2 linked regions of the Homo sapiens genome follow. The protein of the gene in region 2 binds, or shares a complex with, the protein of the main gene of each other region. Each region holds a gene or a part of one and is shown on either strand. Other genes may lie near its edges. The genes, in order: PEX14 and PEX5.

The links.
Region 1: the proteins of PEX5 (region 2) and PEX14 are in contact, whole or in part, in an NMR structure (PDB 4BXU), measured with the Homo sapiens proteins. Residues at the interface, in NP_001124497.1 of Homo sapiens: Glu59, Leu62, Val63, Glu65, Phe66, Leu67, Gln70; in NP_004556.1 of Homo sapiens: Thr31, Phe35, Asn38, Arg40, Val41, Ser44, Pro45, Thr48, Arg49, Phe52, Lys55, Lys56.

Annotation. Positions count from the first base shown.
Region 1 is NC_000001.11:10,614,547-10,626,329, reverse strand, and holds part of PEX14 (peroxisomal membrane protein PEX14), read right to left. Parts: intron 9,495-11,783; exon of another isoform or gene 9,215-9,494; intron 7,999-9,214; coding exon 7,913-7,998; intron 3,312-7,912; coding exon 3,209-3,311; intron 1,991-3,208; coding exon 1,893-1,990; intron 1-1,892. UniProt on the Homo sapiens protein: Component of the PEX13-PEX14 docking complex, a translocon channel that specifically mediates the import of peroxisomal cargo proteins bound to PEX5 receptor.
Region 2 is NC_000012.12:7,182,994-7,195,193, reverse strand, and holds the start of PEX5 (peroxisomal biogenesis factor 5), read right to left. Parts: upstream 5,509-12,200; 5' UTR 5,444-5,508; exon of another isoform or gene 5,261-5,443; coding exon of another isoform or gene 5,214-5,260; exon of another isoform or gene 4,833-5,213; coding exon of another isoform or gene 4,817-4,832; coding exon 4,670-4,816; coding exon of another isoform or gene 4,580-4,669; intron 4,307-4,579; coding exon 4,271-4,306; intron 3,969-4,270; coding exon 3,836-3,968; intron 3,626-3,835; coding exon 3,494-3,625; intron 1-3,493.

The sequences.
Region 1 (11,783 bases), on a different chromosome or scaffold from region 2:
GGACCCAGGAGCCACGGCTCTGGCTTCTCTGAGACCTTGAAAGCTACAGCAGCCCATGAACAAGGGCACAATTTCCACTCACTGGCCTACAAGGGACTCAGATTTCCAAACGCATATGGTGCCAGATGCCAGGATTTAGAAATAAAATCTGACATCTGGGGCTTTTTAGCCAGCCTCTTTAAAAAACAGTTGTAGAAAACTCATAGCCTTCAGTTTTATGTAGGTTTTTTAATTACTTAAAGCTCTTCTTTTTAATTTTTTACAGTGCTCCAGTAGGAGTTTGGAAGCCAGATATAAAAACTTACATTACAGCTGAGAAAACACAGCTCTGGGTCTTTGGTTTATGGGGTAACCAAAGTCCTCACACATACGCGTTTAGATGCCAAGCCAGTGGCCCCATGCAGCTCGGGAGAGAAGGCTGGGGTGGGCCAGGGACAGCGGCAGCAAAGCCAGCTCGAGGGACTCTGAGGGGCCCAACCCCTCTCACCACCAAGCACATCCCGGGCCCCCACTGCTTCTTAAACACAACATGTGGTCTTAATCTCAGGCGTAAGGCCTGAAAACAGTTTTCCAATTTCCGGAATGGCTTCTGGCCACAGGCAGAGCATGGATCCAAAAGATGACCTGACCCAGGAGAGCAGGCAGGGCTGTCGCTGGGCTTCCTGGTGCTTTAGGGACCGGCCACCCGTGGAGAACACGCATTGCAGTGGCTGGAGGTGGTCACCAGTACCCACAGCCATCCCAGGAGGAAGAGCAGGTGGCACCTCTGTGTGTGGTTTGGATATCCAGGGGGGAGATTCCTGGGACCCTCTTCACAAGAGACACCCCAGACTCCATGGAAAGATTGTCATTTTCATGGTTTTTGCAAATGCAAAAGATCTGAGTGCTGGCTCAAGCCAACTCGTACGCTAGGAGTGGCTTTCCCTGGGTAAGCAACTCGGGATGGGACTCTCCAGAGCCCAGGCTGTGGGGGCAGACAGGGAGCAGTGTCCGCCGGCCACAGAGCTGTGGGACAAGGGACAGAGAGAGGAGCCAGTGGGTGTTCTGGAGCTACCAGGCCACTGTCTCCTGGGCCCGGTCTGTCTGATACCGCCTCAGGGATGACCTCTGTTACCCACCCACAGAACCTAGGCCTGCAATCCTGCGAGCTGGCTGGAGCCAGGCACCCTCTTGAACCCATGAAGAGCCCCAGGAATTAGGTGCCGTTATGGCTCCATTTTACAGATGAGGAGACTAAGACTCAGAGAGGTTAAGTAACTTGCCTGTGGTCATACAGCTAACAAGTGGCAGGACCAGGATTCAGCCTGATCCTGGAAGCTGCCACGCCAAGATTTCTTCACATTTGGGCAGTGAGGCAAGGACACTGCCTTGGGAGTTGGTTCTGGCTCCCTAGGATTGCCAGAACCCATGGAACCTGAGTCTAGAGAACCTGCCCGCTGCACTGCGGTGTGGATGGGGCTGGTGCTGGTGAACTGACTGCGACTCGCTTCTCCCCTGTCTGTTCCAGAACCCCTCCTGGCCATGCTGTGACCTGCAACCTAACTTATAGGTAGAGACCGTCCCATGTCTACACAGAAAGCCTCCAGAGCTGCGGGGATGTGGCTGCCATGAGATCTCCACAGGCAGAGGGTAGCTTTTCCTTCCTCCTGTTGGGAGGTGACATAGAGAGAGAAAGGATGGCCTCGACAGTTAAACGTCACACTGACTGCCCAGCAACAGCCTCCTGTCTCTACAAGGAGAGAAAGGGCAGCATCGGCCACGGCTGTGTAACCACTGTGAGACTGGGGCAAAGTCCAGCTCCCGAAGGTGGCAAGCCCGGCCCAAGGGACAAGAGTGAAGGGCACATGGGACAGACCTGGGCCTGGAGGGCCCTGTGCAGCAGAGACAGGTACCTTGGCAGCGGCCAGCTCGTGGGCAAGCTCCTGGATCTTCTGCTGCTGCTGAATCAGCAGCTCCTGGACGGAGGCGAGGGTCGTCTGTAACTGAGTCACTGCGAGGAGAAAGCAGTCACGGCGCTGGCAAATTCACAGGCACAGACGTTCCCCTCGCTCGGTCCGCACACCTCGGAGCTGCCCGTGTTCCCGCTCCATCTAATTTATCTGCAGACACCCCCAGCCCCCGCAATCCATCTAATTTATCTGCACTCTGGGTGATCTGCCTGCACTGTATCTAACCTCTAGTATTTCTACTTTATCTTTCCATTGTGTAGTTGTCCATGGTCAACAGTATATCCGTCCAGAACCTCTCCCCTCTAATTAGAGCTGGCTATGATTTGCTGAGCTCTCCCGGCTTCTCTGGCGCCTGCGTCCTTCATCTCCTGGGCCTCAGTGTCCTTGTGAAACTCCTGGGGTCTCCAATGCTGGGAGAGATGCATCTCAGGTCCCCGCCACATTCACATCCAGGAGTGGCTCAAGCCGCACGTCCTGTTTCCCACTGCTCCTTCCCACCCTCCCCACCTGACCCAAGCTGCCTGCTCAACTCCCTGGTGTCCCGTGACCCCTCAGGACCTTGTTGCCACCAATGTCAGCCTCGCAGGAGCAAACGGCAGCAGGATGGACGTGTCAGAGGGTTTCTGTGAGCTTCACAAACGTGCTCCAGAGGGACACAGACTCCTGCCTGGGACAGGTGGCTCTCTCATTGGCCTTGCTCTGGTTTTTAGATTCAGAGCTGCCGTCTAGTAAACAAGTTTATAAAGAAGAGAAGCCACCTCTGGCGCGACAGGTCCCAGCTAATCTGGGCCATCGCTGGGGCACTGGGTAATGAACGCGAGCCCTGTTGAGTCGATAACAGGGGAGGTGGCTGGGGTCCCGGGAGCCACAGTAATTACAGACTCTCTTGACCCCACAGTCGAGTCTTAGAGGGAAGGGGGAAAATCACTGAAAACCCCCCTGAAAACCTCATAGAAGCAGAAATTAAAAATGAACTTTACAGCCCTTAGAAAGGCTGTCATTTTATTCCCCTTATTAATATTCTGAGGTTGGGAGCCTTTCCGTAAAAACATAATTAATTGAGGCCGCGCCGACAGTAAACAAGCAATTTCAAATTAAACCGAAATGACGGCGGCTTCATTTGCAAATGTGAACAGATTCTCAGAGCAGATAAATGAAGTCACCACATAGAGTGGAGACAGAGGGAGAGGGGAGGGGCAGAGAAGGGGCTGCTTGGAGAAGGCTGTGAGGGGTGACTTGATGGAGTCATTAATCTTTACCTGTCTGGGCCACGCTGCCACTCAGCTCAGAGAGACCGGCCTCCATCCTCTCCAGCTGCTTTCTGTCCTCTCGGCCGCCCAGGATGAGGGGGAGCAGGTATTTCTGCAAGAAGCGGGACAGGGTGAGGAATGCATACGGACCCGGGGTTATCCTCCAACAATCTCTCAAATTCTGCCGCCCAACTTTCTCCCTGTCATCCCTGGGTTTTGGAAACCCTAAGCAAACACCATAAATGAACAAGATATTTGAAAAAGTTATGAGACTGCGATTACAACCACGTAAAAATTCTGCCTGAATAAGGACAAGGACCAGGAGGGAACGTGGACAGGGAGAGTCAGCTGGATCTGCTGTGATGGGAACTTTTTGGTTCCTTTATTTACTTTTCTTAGTGATGCTACACTATTTCTGTAACACAAAGTTATAAACTCTACTGTCAAAGTTGTAAGATATAAATGTGGATGGACACACAAGCAACAGATAATGCTGGAGCCTCCAGGAGGCGAGGGAGGCGGGGCAGCTCTTCCCGGCATGTTCTCCTGAATTGTGAACATTTTGAACCTGTGAGTGAATCACCTATTCAGAAACAAACGAGTAAATTAATAAACAAAACATCGCTGGAGAAACTAAAGGAAAATCAACAACACATTTCTGGGACCCTTGGTTCTCTCGCCAGGGGATAACATGTGCGCTCTGAGGCTGCTGGAAGAGGTCACCTCAGTCTTTTTCTAAATGAAGCCTGAATCCTCAGAACAAACTTCCTTCACGTAAGAGTCAAAAGAAGTCGAGTTCCCCAGAAGGAAACACAAGGCAGAAGGGAGAGGAAGGCGCAGGACCAGAAGAAACTGGCTCTGGGGAAAAAGAAAGTGAATGCGGCAGGGCCACCCCTCACAGGGGCCTAGAACCAGGGATGCCCGAAGGAGCCGTTCAGGAAGGGGGCAGGCAGGGCAGGGCTGGCAACTGGTGCTCTTGGTTGCCTTGGAGGTGAGGGTGTGGAGGGGTGGAGGTGGGTGGTGGGGCCTGCAGGGACAGCTGCGTGTAGGAACATGTGCACTGACGTCCAGCCACTCGGGACATGGAGACAAAGCCCCCCAGGTGAGGAGTGAGACCCGCTGCCCCCTTCAGTGGGCACTGCCAGAGGCAGTGCAGTGCAAGCCTGGCAGGAGCTGCCCGGGGATAACTTTGGTTCTTAATCTATCTGGGCCCAGATAGGAAAGAGGACGGAAACTTCTCCATTACGGTTTCTGTACCAGGGAAGGAAAAGAAGCTCTCTCACAAGGGGTTTGTGGGAACTCATTTCCAGAGTGACTCCTAAGTGAAGATCATTCTTCAGCAGCACATGTATAGACGCATTTTCTATTTTGCAAAGTGCTTTTCAACCACAGTGTGAGCTATTACCCACAACTGAGCCAAAACTCATCAAAGGTAGCCTTACACTTCAGGATGAAATGTCCTCAGCAAGAAAGGTAAAGAATTCTTGGCCGGGCGCGGTGGCTCACGCTTGTAATCCCAGCACTTTGGGAGGCTGAGGTGGGCAGATCATGAGGTCAGGCGTTCGAGACCAGCCTGGCCAACACAGTGAAACTCCGTCTCTACTAAAAATATAAAGATTAGCTGAGTGTGGTGGCGCATGCCTGTAATCCCAGCTCCTCGGGAGGCTGTGGCTGGAGAATCGCTTGAACCCGGGAGGCAGAGGCTGCAGTGAGCAGAGATCATGCCACTGCACTCCAGCCCGGGTAACAGAGTTAGACTGTGTCTCAAAAAAAAAAAAAAAAAAAAAAGAATTCATATATGTGTGTGTAACCAACTAAACACCCCATTTCTGAGATCAGAAGTCCTAAGGGCAGGAGCAGACACGCTGCCCTAGCCAAAGTCTTCACGTGCTTATAAAGCCAGTCGAGGGCTTTTTACCATTTCTTTTTTTTTTTTTTTTTAATTTCGAGAAACTGAGCAGATGCTTTAGAAATTCTCTTGTTACCATTGTGACTGATATTGCAATGTTTCTTTTCTTTTTAAAACAGAGCGGAGAGCCCAGAGCTTCGTAGAAACTACAAGTGGCAGCTCCGTGTGAGTGCCCACGCTAAGGCGGGCTGCCGAGCTGCCCTCCCGCTCCCGTCAGGCCACAGGCCCTCCATGGGTGGCCATGTGACAGTGCCTACTGCTCATTACAGCCAGGGCATTCATCTGAGGACTCTGGCGTTCGTGTCACATTCTTCTTGGTGCTTGTATACAGTCAGTGATTTGAAGGGGGCACCAGTTCAGAGGGAGAAGAACCGGGTCCCAAGAGGTGTTTTTGTTCTGTTCTGTTTATTTATGTATTTATTTGAGACAAAGTCTCGCTCTTTCACCCACGCTGGAGTGCAGTGGCACAATCTCGGCTCACTGCAGGCTCACTGCAACCTATGCCTCCCAGGCTCAAGTGATTCTCCTGCCTCAGCCTCCCAAGTAGCTGGGATTACAGGTGCACGCCATGACACCCAGCTAATTTTTGTATTATCAGTAGAGACAGGGTTTCACCTTGTTGGCCAGGCTGGTCTCAAACTCCTGACCTCAAGTGATCCGCCCACCTCAGCCTCCCAAAGTCCTGGGATTACAGGCATGAGCCACTGCGCCTGGCTTATTTTGTTTTTTAAATTGAGACAGGGTCTCCTTCTGTTGCCGAGGCTGGAGTGCAGTAGTGTGATCTCAGTTCACTGCAACCTCCACCTCCCGAGCCCAAGTGATCCTCCCACCACCCTCAGCCTCCCGAGTATAGCTGGGACTACAGGCTCACACCACCATGCCTAGCTTATTTATTTTATTTTATTTTATTTTATTTTATTTTATTTTATTGTTTGGTAGAGACACAGTTTCACCATGTTGGCCAGGCTAATATCAAACTTCTGGGCTCAAGCAATCTGCCTGCCCTGGCCTCCCAAAGTACTGGGATTAGAGGTGTGAGCCACGGCACCTGGGCCAACCCAGGATGTTTTGTTTCTCAATTTCTTTTTCTTTTTCTTTTTCTTTTTTGAGAAGGAGTCTTGCTCTGTCACCCAGGCTAGAGTGCAGTGGCATGATCTTGGCTTACTGCAAGCTCCGCCTCCCAGGTTCACCCCATTCTCCTGCCTCAGCCTCCCCAGTAGCTGGGACTGCAGGTGCCCGCCGCCATGCTGGGCTAATTTTTTGTATTTTTAGTAGAGTCGGGGTTTCACCGTGTTAGCCAGGATGGTCTCGATCTACTGACCTCGTGATCAAGTCAGGATCCTCAGCCTCAGCCTCCCAAAGTGCTGGGATTACAGGCGTGAGCCACCGCGCCCAGCCCTTGTTTCTCAATTTCTAACATGGAAATGTCCAGCTCCAGGAATACATGCTACACTTAAAAAATTATATTCTGCTACAACTGTCATTAGCTTTTGTATTACATCAAAAATGAAGAATCTGGAATACCATGGCTGACCATGTTTCATGTGCTAAGAGTGACCATGGCGAGTCTGAGTGCTCATTCAGGTTGTTTAAAAAAGAAAATCACCAGCCGGGCACGGTGGCTCAAGCCTGTAATCCTGGCACTTTGGGAGGCCGAGGTGGGCGGATCACCTGAGGTCAGGAGTTCGAGACCGGCCTGGCCAACAGTGAAACCCCATCTCTACTAAAAGTACAAAAATTAGCCAGGCATGCACCAGCACGCCTATAATCCCAGCTACTCAGGAAGCTGAGACAGGAGAATTGCTTGAACTCAGGAGGCGGAGCTTGCAGTGAGCCGAGATCATGCCACTGCACTCCGGCCTAGGTGACAGAGCGAGACTCCATCTCAAAAAAAAAAAAAAAAAAATCACCAATCAGGGGTGGAGGAGCTGGCAGCCTCGAAAGAAAAGAGGCTTCTCTACAGGGTCCCAAGATCTGGACTGGGCACCTACCCTGGCCTGCATTTTCTAGACTCTAGACTCATTTGCTTCACGTCCAAGTTGGGCCTTCACAAGGGAGTCAATGTTCACGTCATGCCTGCAGTTCTGTTGCAAGCAATGAACCTGGGATCCTGAAAGTTGACTTGAGAAGCCTGGGAAATCCTAGATTTCTATAGATGGCAGCACAACAGACAGAGCAAAAAGAACAGCTCCCATACATCTGATGACACTGAGGTTCTCACCGCCGCTCTTAAATGCTGTGGCAGAACAATGGTGTATAAAGCACTTCCATGTGCCGGGCATGGCTCTGAGTCCTCTACAAGGGAGACTGACTCTTCCGGACTTCACGACAACCTTGTGAAGTGGGGACTGTTATTCCCATTTTACAGACCAGAGCCTGTGATCACCAAGCTCCTGAGGGGCAGAGCCAGGGCTCAGCAAAGCAGCTGGCCCAGCGTCCATGCTCTTCGCCATTATGTTATTCTGTGTCTCAAAACTGCTCGCACGGCTTCCCCGTGCGGGCACTACTGTAAGTGCCTGACATGGGCTGGCAAGGGACAGACCTCACGACGCCCCTGCAAGTGGAGATCTGGGTGGTATATGCTGAGCACTGGAGAAAAGGTGGGCAGAGCCTGCCAAGCCCCACAGCAGGGCAGGGTCTGCCTGGATCCAGCTGTGAACCCCGACCTCTACCACAGCCTCTCACTGCCAACACACTCCAGGGCAGAGCACGGCAGTGCCTCCATGCAGGGGAACCAGTGAAAGGGTGCTGAATGCCACAGGGTGGCAGGGGCACAGCACCTGCAGCCGCTGGGGGTGACTCACCTTGTAGAGCTGGTGAAAGCCAAATGCAATGCCTGCCATGATGATGGCCAGGGCGCCGTAATCTCGCCATCGGGAGCCTGCGGGACCTACAGGCGGGAAGAGGAGGAGGGTTAGAAGACGCACATGGCGTCCTTCTTCGGGTGGGGGCTGGCACAGGTGCCTCAGTGGCACAGTCTCCTCGCCTCCAACAATGGGCAAGTGGAACACTCCAACGCAGGAAGGCAGCACATGATCATCACAACAGCAGCCGGCTCCACCCCTCCTGTTCCCACTGCCTCAACTGGGACACAAGGGATGCCAGTCACCCAACCCTGACTGCAGGCTGTGGGTGGAGGTATCTAGCAGTGAGCTGAGACCTGAGTTGGCAGTCAGGTGGCAGAGGTGATCTGAAGACCAACAGCATGGTCTCTACCTCAGGAACAAAAGATCCAGAGAGGATAACAGGAGTATGTTTAGGGGAGCATAAATATACCCATATATGCCCTACTATAGCTGGCGATAAGCTGGGGGCCACAGCAGAACCAAGCGGGGCCTCAGCGAAGTGGAGAGGGGGACCGTGGTACGCTGGGTGGGGGCACGGGGGTGGGCTGTGGTAAACTAGACCTCCCAGCCCTGCTCTCGCTTGGAGCCAGAGGAGAGAAAACACAAGTCTCCAAATGACTGAGCAAGGCTTCAGAGAATGAGAACGCCTATCAAAAGGGATGGGGGTGGCAGGGGAGAGGGGCTGGGGTCAGCAGGGCCTTGGAGGAGCCCTGAGGCCCTTGGGGGCTGGAGGGGAGCAAGCACAAAAGAGAGACGGTAGGTGGGTGTAGACCAGGTGAGCACCCTGGGCCTGACTAGAGAGGAGAGCTGCTCTGGCCCAGAGGACCCCAAGAGCAGGGTGCTGGGGAGAACGGAGAGGAGCCAAGGAAGCCGCAGGTACAGTGGGGGCTGGGGCGGGGCAGGAAAGAGGTAGACAGGTGGCACCAGGTGGACTGTGTGGTCAAGGAAGCCGAATATTCTTTCCTAAGCAATGGGAATTACTGGGGGATGTGAATCAGGGAGTGCCATGACCCTGGACAGCAGCACTGGGGAGGCTCTGAGGGTGGTCAGAAGTGGGGGCCGCAGAGGCAGAAGAGCTGGGGCGAGCCTGCTGCAAGGGTTCACGAGGTGGAGAGGGACTGGGACCAGCACAGAGGGCAAGAAGGGAGTGGGGCAATGTCTCAGGAGAACACATTGCTGCTGCTGTGAAGGGCAGCCAGTCTTCATGGAAGATCACCTGGCCCCGTTCTCTTCTCTTTATTTGTATTAAGTAATCTTTTTAGAGATGGGCTCTTGTTATGTTGCCCAGGCTGGAGTGCAGTGGCGATCCACAGGCATGTCCCACTGCTGATCAGAATGGGAGTTTTGACCGGCTCCATTTCTGACCTCCTTAGGCGACCTCGTGGTCCCCTGCTCCAGGAGGTCACCATATTGATGCAGAACTTAGTGCAGAACCCCGATCAGCACAGTGCCCCGTAGCCCGGAACTCCTGGACTCAAGGAATCCTCTCACCTCAGCCTCCCAAGCAGATGGACTACAGGCGAGCAGCACCGCGCCCGGCCGATTCTCTTTAGAACGGCACATAGCAAAGTGCCCTCCTGAATGCAATTCTACTTGACGTGGGGAGAGTTTCCACCTTCACTCTTTCCCATGCCCAGTTCACAAAGTGCTCCCACGTCCACAACCTCATCTGATCCTCCAAGGCACGCGGGAGAGCCCCGTCTCCACTGCGAACACCTTTCTGGAGCGGCCATCTCCAGGCCACGTGGCGGGTGCTCTGCCTCCCCCCGAAGGATCTGTCATCAGGAGGGGCGTGGGTGGGACACAGACCAGCGGGGAAGGCGATCACAGCACCAGTGGAGAGCTATCCGGAAGGCGCCCCCACAGTGTGCTGCTCATCTGGGAGAAAGGGGGAGAGGGAAAATCAGCAGCGTTCTGAACTCTGGGAAGGAACGTCACAACACGGCCGAGTGAAGCTGAAGGACTTGCTGCTTGAGAGACTTCTGCCCTCAGTTCTCACCTGTGCCTGTAAGTTTTCAGAGGTACCTTCCATGTCCTGGCGTTTTATGACCACAGGGGAGGAGAAGGCCCGTTCTTTCCTTCAGCTCAGGGCAGGATGTGGCATGAGGGGGAAGGGGCTGCTGGCACGCAGCCCCACCAGGCGGATCCAAGTCGCAAAGACCTCCGAGTGGGCAAGGAGACACCCCCTCCCCCAGGGCTGCTGAATGGCACTCTCAGGGGGCAGAGACGACAGGGCTGGAGGGGCCTGGAGTCCCTCCTTGGCCACCAAACTCCCTCCCTGCCTGCGGATTCCATGCGAGACTCCCCGGTGTGTCCTAGCCCTGGAATCTCGGTCCCAAAACTGTAATCAACATAGGGCCTCTCCCTCAGTCCCCAACTCCCATTTCTGTTTTACACTTTTTGAACAGGTAGCACGCATACAGTTTACTCATCGAATAGCACAGGGCAGTCTGTGAAAAAAGGCTTCCCCACCACCAACAGCCATTAGTAGTCTTACATTTATCCTTCCAGTGAGTCTGTGTGCACACCTAAGGTGGCACAGGATGTCTTCTCTTCCTTCACGTTTCCCCATCTCTCAATCTTGTTTTCTACAGCTGCAGGATATTCCACTTCACCTGCCCTCCGATGGGCACCCAGCTCATTTCCAACTTTCTACTACTGCACACCACGCTGCCATCAACAACGTGCACACGTGCCATCTCCCACATGGGGACACGCACCCTGTGAGCCTCAGAACCCCCAGAGGGTGGTCCCAGGGCGTGTGCATTTGCAGTTTTGAGAAATACTGCCACCCTGCCTCCATGGGGCCGATAATTCACCCTGAGCCGCTGCGCAATGCCTGCTTCCCCACGGCTGCGCCCACACAATGCACGATTCAAACGCAGAGATTCCTGCCAATACCACAGCAGGAAAACAGAAGTTCACTCTAGTTCTAATTTGCATTGATCTCATTTTGAGTGAGGATTGAGCATGTTTTCATCAGCATTTCCTTTTCGGTGTACTGTATGCTCTCCACTTTTCTACTTGATTTCTTTTCCCTTGTCACTTTAGAGAGACTTTTTATATAGCAGGGATATTAGCCCGCTGTCTGTGATCTGCATCGCAAACATCTTCTCTGGTTTATTTTTCTTTTGACTCTGCTAATGGTGTTTTGTCGCATGCAGAGGTTTTTATACAAATTTATCAATCTATTCTTTTATGGGTTCTGGGGTTTGTGTTATGGTTAGCAAGGACTTCCCCCACTCCCTTCCCAGGCTGTGCAGTGACACTCGGTGTCTAAGAAACTGCCATGGGAAGGGGACAGTGCTACTTCACTGATGGTGGACACCCCCACCCGACACAAATCACCTCTCGTTATACAGGGAGCTCTAAGAGCACTGAGGCAGACGGATCTTTCACCTCGACCCCAAGGAGCCGGGCACTTGGAGTCCTGGTCAGGTGTCTCTTCTGTCTCCCCTCTTCTAGCCAGCTTTGCTTGGCGCTCCAGATACAAAACCTGACATCTAGTGCAAGTCCATTTTCAGGAGGAAAAAGTGAAGACAGAGCAACCTGGCCACCCCGCTCTCTCAGAGTCCCTGCTCAGGAGGGCCTTCATCCATACCCGGAACATCCCTCCCTGCAGCCAAAATCCTCAGGCAGAACAAGTGCAGAACGGGGCCCACGGCCCGAATACCATATTCACCACTGATTTCTCAGACACCATGAAGCCTCTTGCAAGAAAGCAGCTGTGACTTGGCTGAAAGCTTGACCAGCACCTGGAGTTTGCTGGATTCCTCTGCTCACCCGCAAACATCCCGCCATGAGAAGGACAGCCTTCTCTGGGGCCCTC
Region 2 (12,200 bases):
TCCTTCTAGGCACATCTTCCCCAAGCTCAAAAGTCAAAAACTCAGAACTTGCTACTCTTACTCATGAAAGTTTCTGTGTCTGCTAAATAGCAGCACTGTGGAGAAGAATACAAGTTGTAGGGTCAGTCTACCCACATTTAAATCCTAACTCCATCACTTATTCACTGTGCATCTTCAGACTAGTTACTCAACCTTCTTAAGTTTCCATGTCCTTATCTTTAAAGCAGAGATAACAGTAGGGGCTGCGGTGAAAACCAATGAATACAGTAACAAATGTTAGTTATTATCATTAGTCTGCTCATGGCAAACCTATAACAAAAGCAGAAAACATCACAATGAGACTGTTATTCCAAAGCCTCTCCTCCAACATCCAGAAAAGATCTGTTGCCAATTATCTTCTGCTACTGCTATCCATGGCTTTTCCCATGAAAGTGCAGGTTTATCTCTCACGATTATCATATGAACCTCACATACCATGTCAACCGAAGCTGTCTAAATTTAAGAACCCTGAAGATGTGTTTTATCTCTAGATCTGAGCAAACACAAGATGGAGAATTATTTGACCCAGAAGATTTAAGACGGGGGGATTCCATTACAAAATAAGGTAAGCTAAAAAAATGAACTTCATGTGGTGAGAGAATAGTTCTGTATCTTGATCATGATGGTGCTTACACAAATCTACACATTTAATAAAATTGCAAAAAACACACACACACAAATAAGGGCATGTAAAACTGGTGAAACCTAATAAACTCTGAGGATTGAAACAAGGGCAACTTCTTGATTTTTGATCTCTGCATAACTGCTATGTAAAATGTTACCACTGGAGGAGACTGGGTGAAGGGTATACAGAACCTTCCTATACATTTTTTTTTTCAACTTCCAGTGAAACTAAGTACTTCCAAATAAAAAATTTAAATTTAAATAATTGAGCTGCAACATTCTTTTTAAACTTGATTTTGACTCTTAACAGTGGAGATTTTAAAATAAGAACTTAAAAAGTATAACCTTCTTTCATCTCAAAATCTACTTATCTATAAAGCCATAGCTAACCCATACAATTGTATCAACCACAAATGCTGTAATTAAAAATGAAGGATAATAAAAAAAAGTCAGTTACGACAAAATGAACTCCTTTCCTTTAGCTTTTTCTCCCAGATCTCAATTCATTCATTCAATACCAGAGGCCTACTACATGCAAAGCAATATACTGCTGCAATAAGACATTTTTATGAAGGCAGACTTCAAACAGCTCAACTCCCATTCTAAGGTTTGCATGTCTCTGCCTCTGTGAAACAGGCACGATTCCAAAAGAATCTACAAAATACTAGAAGAGCTCTACTAAGAGCATTTAACTGGTGAGACAGATAAAACATGTTTTTCTAAAGTTCTTTTTCATTTCAAGTTAAGGAAGATTTCAATGGCTGCATGCAATTCAGGTAATTACAGCAAAAATTTCATCCATCTCAACGCTCATAGTAGCAATGATTTTTCTGAATTATCAAAAATGACTAATGCCCACATTACAACAGAAGCCTCTCTGTGATAAGAGATAGCACTTAAGTCTAAGGTTTATGTGAAAAACTGAGTTTCTGTCTTGGAGAGGGTCTTTGCTATGGTTCAGATTTTAACTTGCGGCAATTTCACAAAGAATCTCAACGTGAGGGCGCGTGCGGTGGCTCACGCTTGTAATCCCAGCACTTTGGGAGGCTGTGGTGGATTACTTAAGGTCAGGAGTTCAAGACCAGCCTGGCCAACATGGTGAAACCCTGTCTCTACTAAAAATACCAAAATTAGCCGGGCATGGTGGCACACGCCTGTAGTCCCAGCTACTCAGGAGGCTGAAACGGGAGAATCCCTTGAAGCCAGGAGGCAGAGGTTGCAGTGCGTACAGATTGCACCGCTGCACTCCACCCTGGGTGAGAGCAAGACCCTGTCTCAAAAAAAAAAAAAAAAAAAGAATCTCAAGAGCCACACAGACATGAGTTTGAATATCATCTCTATTATTCAATGATTTTGCACAAAGTATTTAACTTTTCCAAATCTCAGTCTCCTCATCTATAAAATGGGGGTGGGATATCCACCTTGTGTTACTGTTACTGTGAAGTTCTAATGAGCTTAAGAAGATAAAGTGATTAGCACTCTTAAAGCCAAGAGCACCTACTGTTCTACCTTAACTCCAACTTATGGGTGGGAAAGAGACACGTGATAAAAGAGACCCACAGATCTTATTAAAGGTGAGTTTTAGTTTTTAGATTTGGGATTTTTCTCTTGTGTGCGGAGAAGCCCATCCTAAACATGGGCCTCCTTCACACACATTTGTCCCTGATCAGATAGGCTTCGGGTAAGAAGAATCAATCCTAAAGGATGCGAGGAGCAATGGATGCTCTCAAGGAAAATTAGACTTGAGACCTTGAAATCTGTAGCAAACGAAGAAAGAACATAAATTAAAATGGTGGGGGTAGAAACCAATTCAGTCCCTTTAATCATCTCAGAAAAATTCAGGAACCATGATGATGTGACTCCCCGAGATCCTGGAACTTGGTAACTTTCTCTATGTGTATCTCTTGTTATTCTTGATATCTTAAACAGGAAAAAGGCTAACTTTTGAGAGCAATCAGGAAGAGGAAAGCTGAAGAGACTGCCCTTCCCACCATGTACCTGATTAGATAGGCTTAGGGCAAGAAGAATCAATCATAAAAGATGCAGGAGCAATGGATGCTTTCAAAGAGGAAAAATTAGGCTGAAACCTTTAAGTCTGTAGCAAAGCAAGAAAGAAGATAAATTGCAGGCCTGACAGTATAGCATCACAGTTAAGGCCACAGGGTCAGGAATCATTCAAATCCAGGATCAAATCCCAACTCTACCACTGACAAAGCTGTGTAACCTTGGGCACACTTCACCTCTAAGCCTCAATTTTCTTATCTTTAAACTAGGTCTAAAAACAGTAACTACCTCTAGGGTTCTCATGGAGAGTAAGTAGATAATGCATTCAAAGCATGTAACACAAGGCCTAGAACGTAACTATTGTTATTAATTTTTATTATCATCATCATGGTATGGTCTTTACCTTCTAAAGCCATACACTTCAGGCACTGGAACTTCACAATAACACTCTGAAGGCCCCAATTCTGTTCCAAATAACTTAAGGCCAGAATCCCAGGTGCTGTAGTGAATACTCTCTTCCTCGGCAACACTGCCATCCATCCAATCTGTAGATCCTCTCCACTAAACCACAGTGATAAAGTAAAAAGGCCAACCAAACTCTTCGTTCTCTCTATCCAAAATCTCTTATCCAGTACAAACCCAGTCCTCTCTTTAATATACATTACATTCCGTTATCACCTAAGGGAAATTGAGTTCAGTACCCTACCCCTCTAGAAATGAGTCATGAGACCAGAAAAATCGTAATCACACTATAACGTGAACAGGGGAAGGGTATAGAATTCTGTCCCATAGAAGCCAATATAGATTTTCCCATAACAAGTTTCACCTGTAACTTCAGAGATGAATTCTTGGGACCAGTCAGTCTCATTATAATCCTGAGTTACATCCACAGCATCTCCAGCTGCAAGAAACTCCTGGGCCCAGTTCTCAGACAAGGCCAAGTCTGCCACACCAGGGGCTTAAAAGAGAGAGAGAGAAAACTAAGAAAGAATACATACATACCATTCCATCATGCCTAAAGAACCCTGAATCCACGTGAAAACACTCTGTTACTTTTGTCTCCTTCTGCATCTCAGGTCCCCAATGCCAGCAGCATCCAATGGAACCCCCTTCCTTGGCCCTGGCTACATGGAAAACGATCTCCCCTCCCACTAGACTCTGGACTCACCTCTCTGGGGAGCCTGGCGGAAGTTTGACTGCTCAATCTGCTGCATCTCAGCCAGGAGGTCATCCATCTTGAAGGTCTGAGGGGCACGGGACACAAGGGGTGCATTCTGGTCCTGCAGGAATTCAGCCACCAACTGCCAGAAGGGAAATGATGAAATGAACCCATAGGCTTGGGAGGCCCCAGCAAGAGGCAGGACCCACTGGAGGGGGATCCCAATGTTAGATACAAGGAAAGGAAAACACAGAAACTGGAGACACATAAAGAGAAACTGTCTTTCCATAGATTTAGAAGGACGAAAAAATACATTTAAAAACAAGCAGGCATTCTCATTCGGTCAGGAAAGCCCAAAAATTGAAATACGGGTGAACTAAGTTTAAAGGTAAAAACACAGTGGGCAAGAGAAAAATGGGACAGAAAAGAGACTGGTCTATTTACCTCATCTTCAGAAGCTACTCCCAAAGGCTTGGAGGCCTAAGAGAGAAAGACAGAGATGTACAATGACGCAGTTCCTCTAAAATCAGGGGTTGATGAAGCCCATAGGCATCTGAGCCTCGGCTTCTTCATCTATAAAATGGTTGCATTTATTTAAAGGTGCACAGGGTTTTCTAGTGTTTATAAACGCTCAGTAAGTGGTAACTACTATGATTTGCAACACAATAGAGAAAGCAGTTATACCAAGATGTGCAAACAGCCCCTCCACCTCAGACCACCACCACCTGGGCTTTCCACCTCAAGAACACTCACTGCCTCAGAGGCTGCACCTGGGCTTTCCACCTCAAGAACACTCACTGCCTCAGAGGCTGCACCTGGGCTTTCCACCTCAAGAACACTCACTGCCTCAGAGGCCGGGGCTCCGGGGGGCCAGGGGCCAGGCCTCAATCCCTCCTGCCGAAGGGCCTTGTCCTGGGTGAAGTGCCCGGCGAGCTTCATGAGCGGGTTGGCACCCCCGCATTCGGCCTCCACCAGCTCCCGCATTGCCATGGTGACCGCCAGCTCTCTGATGGACACAGGAGGTTTGGAACTGAGGTACCCAAGCCAGACCCTTCTCACATCCACAACTCTGCCCGTATCTGAGGAAGGCACACAGGCGTCTGCCCCACACTGGCCGCCCTCCACCCCAGTGCTTTTGCTGCGACCCCCACCTCTGCCAGGAGTTCGAGGGAGGTCGGTACTCTCTCCTGCCGCCCCCCTCAAAGGCCACCGCTTCCAGCCTGCGCCTCTGCAGAGGCCTCCGCGACTACGGTCCCATGGGCTGGGGGCCAGCAGCTGCCTCCACAAAGGGGCCTGGACCCCGGGGGACCACGGGGACGCTTCAACAACCAGGCTGGACGGCGACACTGCCCGAAGAAGGGACAGTGGGAAAACAGCCCGACCATACCTAGCCCCGCGCAGCCCCAGCACGCGGTGAGCACGGCAGAGGAGCATTCCCTCCCCTTAAGTCACCGGAGCCCTTCCCCCGGCTCGGCCCGGTCCCTCCCGCGCTCCCCACCGCCCATCTCCCCGGCCCTGCTGCCGCTCCAGCCCCGCCCCTGGGACCCGCGAGGCCACCGCAAGGGTGGGGAGGGCCCAGGGACGCGGCCCCGGGCCCCCTCGGGGTCAGGCGCTCACCGCGGAGCGCCGCGCCGCACGACCCGCCGGGGCACCAGGTGCTGGCTTGGGGGAGGGGAGAAGAGGGGGCGGGGAGCCAGGGGGCGGGGCTCAGGCTTAAAGGGGCCGTGACCGCCCCGCAGCGGCCCAGGCCCAGCGGAAGCTGTCTGAAAAGGCGGGGCCTTAAGACTGCGACGCAGCCTGACGGGAAGAGCCGTGAGTCTTAAAGGGGAAGAGCACCTTAGAGAGCGGGTCTTGGAGAGTCGCCTTTAGGAGCGCTCGAAAAGGCCACGGGCCCTAGGATTTGTTTGACGGAAAGCTCAAAGAAGAGTGGAGCTAAGAAGGGCTTCCCAGGCTCTGGGGGAAAGCCGAAGACGCGAGATCCTAGGCTCAGTCGATCCTGCCTCTTCCCTTGGGCGCATTGTGACCTAAGGGGATTCAGTGCCCTTTCTGAGCCTCAGTTTTCCCCTCTAAAATGGGGCTGGCTAATGTTCCCAAGCCCAAGAAAGAGAAAAGCCCTAACACCAGGGGCTGGGGAGTCCAGTCCGAAGCCTTCTTCAGCCTCCTAGGCCTGCCCCGCTTCCAAATAACCCCTAGCGGGGTAGCGTCACTGTCTCCATGGAGACAGGGGCCCGCCCCCGCCTTAATCCCTCTCCACCTCTGCATAATGGGGAAAATAGCACTGCATGATGACAAATTCCGGAGACCAAAATAGGGTCCAACGCATCCTGAGACCTCGAGCTGGTAACGTACAGGGAAGGTGAACAGTGAGTCAGCCCTTCCTTCCGCTAAGTCAACATAGTGGCCTTATTCCCATCACTCCAGGCTGGGAAAGGACAAACATACAAGAAATGCTTTTAATCACGGAATAAGACTAAGCCTCAAGCCCCCTCATCTGCCAAAGAGTGTGCTCTGCTGTCAAACCTCAAAGTCATTGAGAAACAAACCCTGATAATCTCACCCAGCTTCAAGACCAAGGGAGTCCTAGTGTCATGGAGAAGAGCAAGGAGGGGCCCAGGGCTGCCGGTAAATGACCAAGGGCAATAATGCCAGACGAACAGAAGTACCATCCCAGCCCAGGGTGCATGAGCGGAGGCAGGCAGGCAGCAGGTGGCGCCATGGGCCGGGCTTGTTTCCTGGCTGTTCTGCAGATTTCAGAGGTGGAGGCCTCAGGGGGCCACAGGGAATGTCTGTGTAAACTCATCCCTGGGAAGACAGAGAAGCTGCTCTGACACCTCAGGGGAACAGAATGGCAGGGGACAGACCATAAGACTGTGCAACATTTCTCCTTTTCCTTGCCTTTTCGCCCTCTTTCAGAGGCCCCACTTCTACACCCCGTTTTCTTCCGGAGCACACAAATCCCAGCCCTTGGGCGTCCCCTGTTCTCAGGCTGCCATCGTGAGGAAAATACCTGATAAACTAAACCACACAAGGATGAAGAGATGCCCTCCAGAAGGTGCATACTTTTAAAAAGAGGACCCCCTAGAGAGAGCAATGTTTAAAGGAACCCATCTGATACAGTAGAATTTCAGAACCTCAAGGCAACCAGAGTTTCCCAGTACCACTTAAACATCACAACACACATAACCTTCTGCTCTGCTAGGAGTTTATCAACTGATTAGCCGTAACTCACTTTGTGTGCAGATCTTGGAAGAATGCTAATAATAATAACTGATGTTTACTAAAATCCAGGTGTTGTGTAAAACACTTTATGTATCTCAATGTTTTTAATCTTCTTAATACCCCTATTAAATAGATATTAGTAGACCCACTTTACAGATAAGACTTGTGCAAAATCAGATGGCTAGGAAGTCAAAATTTAATCCAGGCATAACTCTAGGCACCTACTTCCCAGTCTTAGAGAAGACTTACTGATAAACCATGGAGATCTTTGATCTCCTAGGCCATAGAATCATTCACAGAACTTGGTCCACAGTCCCAGCCAGAGGTGCTGGGAAAGGGCTAATAGAGTGACTTTGGTGTTTAATATTTAATTTACTGAAGCTCTAGATTTGAAACCCTAGATTTTGTTAATCCAGGTTCAACTTTAAATTCTTGTTCTATTCATAAAAGTAGTAATTTTTATAAAATAAAAATAATTTTTACTTATTCTTTAATGTTTGACGAATTCAAGTTCAATAGATGTTTAGACACACATTGCATTGACTGTGTGCCAGGCATTGTTTCAAGCACTTTTCAACTATTGATTTATTTAATCCTCCTAATAGTTATTAATAATAACTATTATCCCCCATTTTACAAAAGAGGAAACTGAGGCACAGAGAAGTTGAGTGACTTGCACAAGGTCATACTAATAAATAGCAGAGCTGGGATTTGAACCCAGACCACGGTCACCAAACTGTAAAGGGCTCAATGGTCAATATTTTTGGCTTTGTAGTCCATGCAGTCTCTGTCACAGTGACTCAACCCTGCTGTTGGAGCACAAAAGCAGACATAGGCCACACCTAAACAAATGAGCATGGCTGTATTCCAGTAATGCTTTTTATGGGGACTGAAATGTGAATTTTATATAATTTTCATGTTACAAAATATTCTTCTTCTTTTGATGTTTTTCCAACTATTTAAAAATGTCAAATACTTATTTGTTTTGAGACAGTCTTGTTCTGTCACCCAGGCCGGCATGCAGTGGCGCAATCTCGGCTCACTACAACCTCTACCTCCTAGGTTCAAGTGATTCTCCTGCCTCAGCCTCCCGAGTAGCTGGGACTACAGGCACATGCCACCATGCCCAGCTAATTTTCGTATTTTTAGTAGAGATGGGGTTTCACCATGTTGGTCAGGCTGGTCTCAAACACCTGACTTCAGATGATCCACCCCCCTTGGCCTCCTGAAGTGCTGGGATTACAGATGTGACCCACCGTGCCCAGCCAAAAAACGTCAAATACTTCTTAGCTTGCAGACTATGGAAAAACAGGGACCAGGCCATAGTTTGTGGATCTTTGACCTACACAGTCTTATTCCAGAGTCCATGCTCTTAAACACTGTGCTGTACTTCTGCTTTTTAGAAATAAAAGACAAATTTCCTAATATTTTTAACTATGTGACATTTAATATTCATATTTTAAATACCTGACAGGGCAAACAACACTACTAGGCAAAACCTTTCTGAACTTTTATTCAACCCTTTAATAAATCAAACTTATAAACATTTATTCAATTTTCTTAATCCTCTTAAAGTCATATGTCTAAAACTCTTTTCTTTTCTTTTTTTTTTTTTTGCTGTTGCAAGATTTAATAGAGTGAAAACAGAGCTCCCATACAACGGGAGGGGACCCAAAGGGGGTTGCCACTGCCAGCTCAAATGCCTGGGTTTATATCCCGATCATTGTCCCTCCCCCTGTGCTCTCAGGCAATAGATGATTGACTATTTCTTTACCTCCTGCTTTTAGCCTAATTGGTGTTTTAGTGAGCTCTCTTTACTACCTGATTGGTCAGGTGTGAGCTGAGTTACAAGCACCCTGTTTAAATGTGAGTACAGTCATCTTCCCCAGCTGGGCTTAGGAATGCTTAGTTGGCCTAGGAAATCCAGCTAGTCCTGTCTCTCAGTCCCCCCTCTCAACAGGAAAACCCAAGTGCTGTTGGGGAGGTTGGCCAACGACTGCTTTAACTGCTTCCTGCTGAATTGGGGCATAGTAGGTCATGCAGTTGAGATTTCCTCAGCAGGGGTGCCTTTGATGTCATCAACATCAGAGCATGGCCTAGCAGGTCCAGGGGTCTGTAGTAGATCTTAGTCATGGACTGCATCTGGGGCTCCATTTGAAGAGCCATTTGTAGTTTTTACAGCTTTGATTCTGGAAGAGACAAACTTAACAAGGAGGTTAAAGATACAGGGATTGAAATGTATGGCCTGAAGTGCAGGGGGAGGCACATCCAACAGTTAGTAGGGTTTGGGGATAAAGATAAGCCAGTATTGGCTGGATACGTTCCTCACTGAGGGCCCTGGTGCCTTTGGATAATTTTAGCCCTAAGTATTTAACCTGCTGTAAGCAGAACTGAGCCTTTGGTTTGGAAACCTTGTAGCCACAGGTGGCGAGGAAGTTTAAGAGCGCTTGGGTAACTCGATGGCACAAGGTTTCTGAACGGGCTGCTAAAAGTAAATCATCCACATACCAAAGGGCAAGAGTGTCCAAGTATGAGAACTGGCTCAAGTCTTGTGCTAATGCCTGGTCAAATAGATGGGGGCTATCCCTGAACACTTGGGGTAAAGCAGTCCAGGTGAGTTGAGATGTTGGGTTCAAAGGATCTTCAAAGGCAAACAAGAATTGAGAGTCGGGATGTACGGGGATGCAGAAAAAGGCATCCTTAAGATCCAGGACTGTAAACCACTCTGCTTCCTCTGGTATTTGTGAAAGCAAAGTATAAGGGTTAGGTACAGCTGGGTATAGAGGGACAACGGCCTCACTGATAATCCTGAGATCTTGCACTAACCTCCACTGTCCATTGGGTTTCTGTACTCCTAAAATTGGAGTATTGCAGGGACTATTGCATGGTTTTACTAGGCCTTGGGCTTTTAGGTCCTTAACGATCTTTTGAAGTCCAAGTTGGGGCTTGTTGGGCTGTCCATCAGAGAGCTGGGTGGATCTAAGAGGGTACTGCCTTTGGTAGGGGAAGGAGGCAGAATCCTTTAGTTTAAGTTGAACAGGACAGGCATTCTTCACTTGTCTATTTGTCCTTCTGTGGCCCAGACTTCAGGATTAATTCCTTCCTCAAGTAGGGGACAACAAATGGGTGCTCCTTCTCCTATATTCAAGTGTATAATGGCCCCTGCTTTTGCTAGAATATCTCTCCCTAACAAAGGAGTGGGGCTTTCAGGCATAATTAGAAAGGCATGTGAAAAGAGTAAAGTTCCCCAGTCACAACTTAGTGGCTGGGAGAAATATCTAGTGACTGCCTCTCCTAGGACCCCTCAGATAGTGACAGATCTGGAAGACAGTTGTCCGAGACAGGAGAGTAAGATTGAGAAGGCTGTGCCAGTGTCCAGGAGACAGTTAACCTCCTGGCCCTTAATGGTCAAGCATACCCGGGGCTCTGTGAGGGTGATGGCATGGGCTGGTGCTTGCCCTGGGCACACAGTTCTGCTGCTGGATCATCTATCTGGTTAGTGGCTTCTGACTCAGAGGACCTTCGTTCCCTGGGGCAGCAGAACTTCCAGTCATTCCCTTGACATAAGGGGCATGGACAAGGGGGTGGCTTATTTCTATTCGGACAATCTTTTTTAAAGTGCCCTTGTAGACCGCATTGGAAGCAAGCATTCAATTTACCCAGCCTTTCTGTTCCAGAGCCTCCAAAGTCTGCTTGCTTGAAGGCCATGACTAAAGCTGTGGCCTTTTTTTAATCCCGTTTGTCCCATTCCGCCTGCTCCTCCTGATCTCTATTATAAAATACCAAGGTTGCCAAGTTCAATAGGGTTTCTAAGTTTTGCTCTGGGCCTAAGGCAGATTTTGAAGTTTTTTTTCCTAATGTCTGCAGCTGACTGAGTGATAAACTTATCCTTTAAGATTAGTTGGCCTTCAACAGAGTCAGGTGACAGAGAGGTATGCTTTCTCAATGCCTCCCTTAGTCTCTCCAGAAAGACAGTAGGATTTTCTTCCTTTCCCTGTGTTATAGCAGACATCATTGAATAGTTCATCAGCTTCTTCCTAGTTTTCCTTAGTCCTTCTAGCACGCAAGTTAGCAAATGTCTGCAGCACCAATCTCCATGTTCTGATTCTGCGTCCTGATGAGGGTCTACACTGGGAACTGCCTACTGGCCTGTGGGGAATTGTTCTCTTTCCTCTGTTGTCATACTATCATTGACCTGATTGAGATACCAGAGATCGCCAAACTCTCGGGCTACAGTTATGGCGGCACTTCTCTTGTTTGGGGTTAGTGTCTGATCTAGCAGTAACATTATATCTCTCCATGTCAGATCAAAGGATTGTCCTAACCCTTGTAAAACATCAACATAGCCATCAGGGTTATCTGAGAATTTACCTAGGTCTATTTTAATTTGCTTCAAATCTGAGAGGGAAAAAGGTACATGCACTCTGACTGGGCCAAATTCTCCTCCCACTGCCTGGAGGGGGCATAATCGGGAAATATTGGCACTCTTTGGTTCATTGTTTACCCCTTTGTCTATCTCCTTTTGGACCGTTTGTGTGAAGGGGGGTCCTTATTAGTTGGGGAAAGAGCCGGGGGAATGCTGGGGTAGGGAGGTAGATTCTGAGAGCTTCCTATAGGGCATAAATTACACTTTTTACGTAACTGCAAGTTATCTCTTAATGAAAAGAAAGTTTGCACATATGGCACTTCACTCCATTTGCCCTCTTTTCTACAAAAGAGGTCTAGCTATAAGATGGTGTTATAATTTATACTTCCCTCAGGAGGCCAGGTTTCTCCCTCTTGAAGAGGATATCATGGCCAGGCAGTACTGCAGAAGAATATAAGTTATTTATTTCTTAGTGTTTGAGGGTCAAATTGGTCCCAATTCTCCAGAATACATCTTAGGGGCATTTTTGCCTTGGGGGGAACATTTCCCATCTGAAAAAAGAACATAGGGATGCCAGCACCCCGAGTCATTTTCCAATGCGCATCGCATCAGTTTTAGAGCATCCTCGGTGGTCTTAATGCTTATTCCTTTCCAGGGTGCGTAACCACCCATGGACCTCTGCTTATCGGATTAGTTATGCTCACCAATGTAGCAGTCCTGCACCTGTTTTCCCACCTTTCTTGACCACAAAGAAAGGGGTCGGGGCTGCTGGATTCTAGGGGTCCTTTA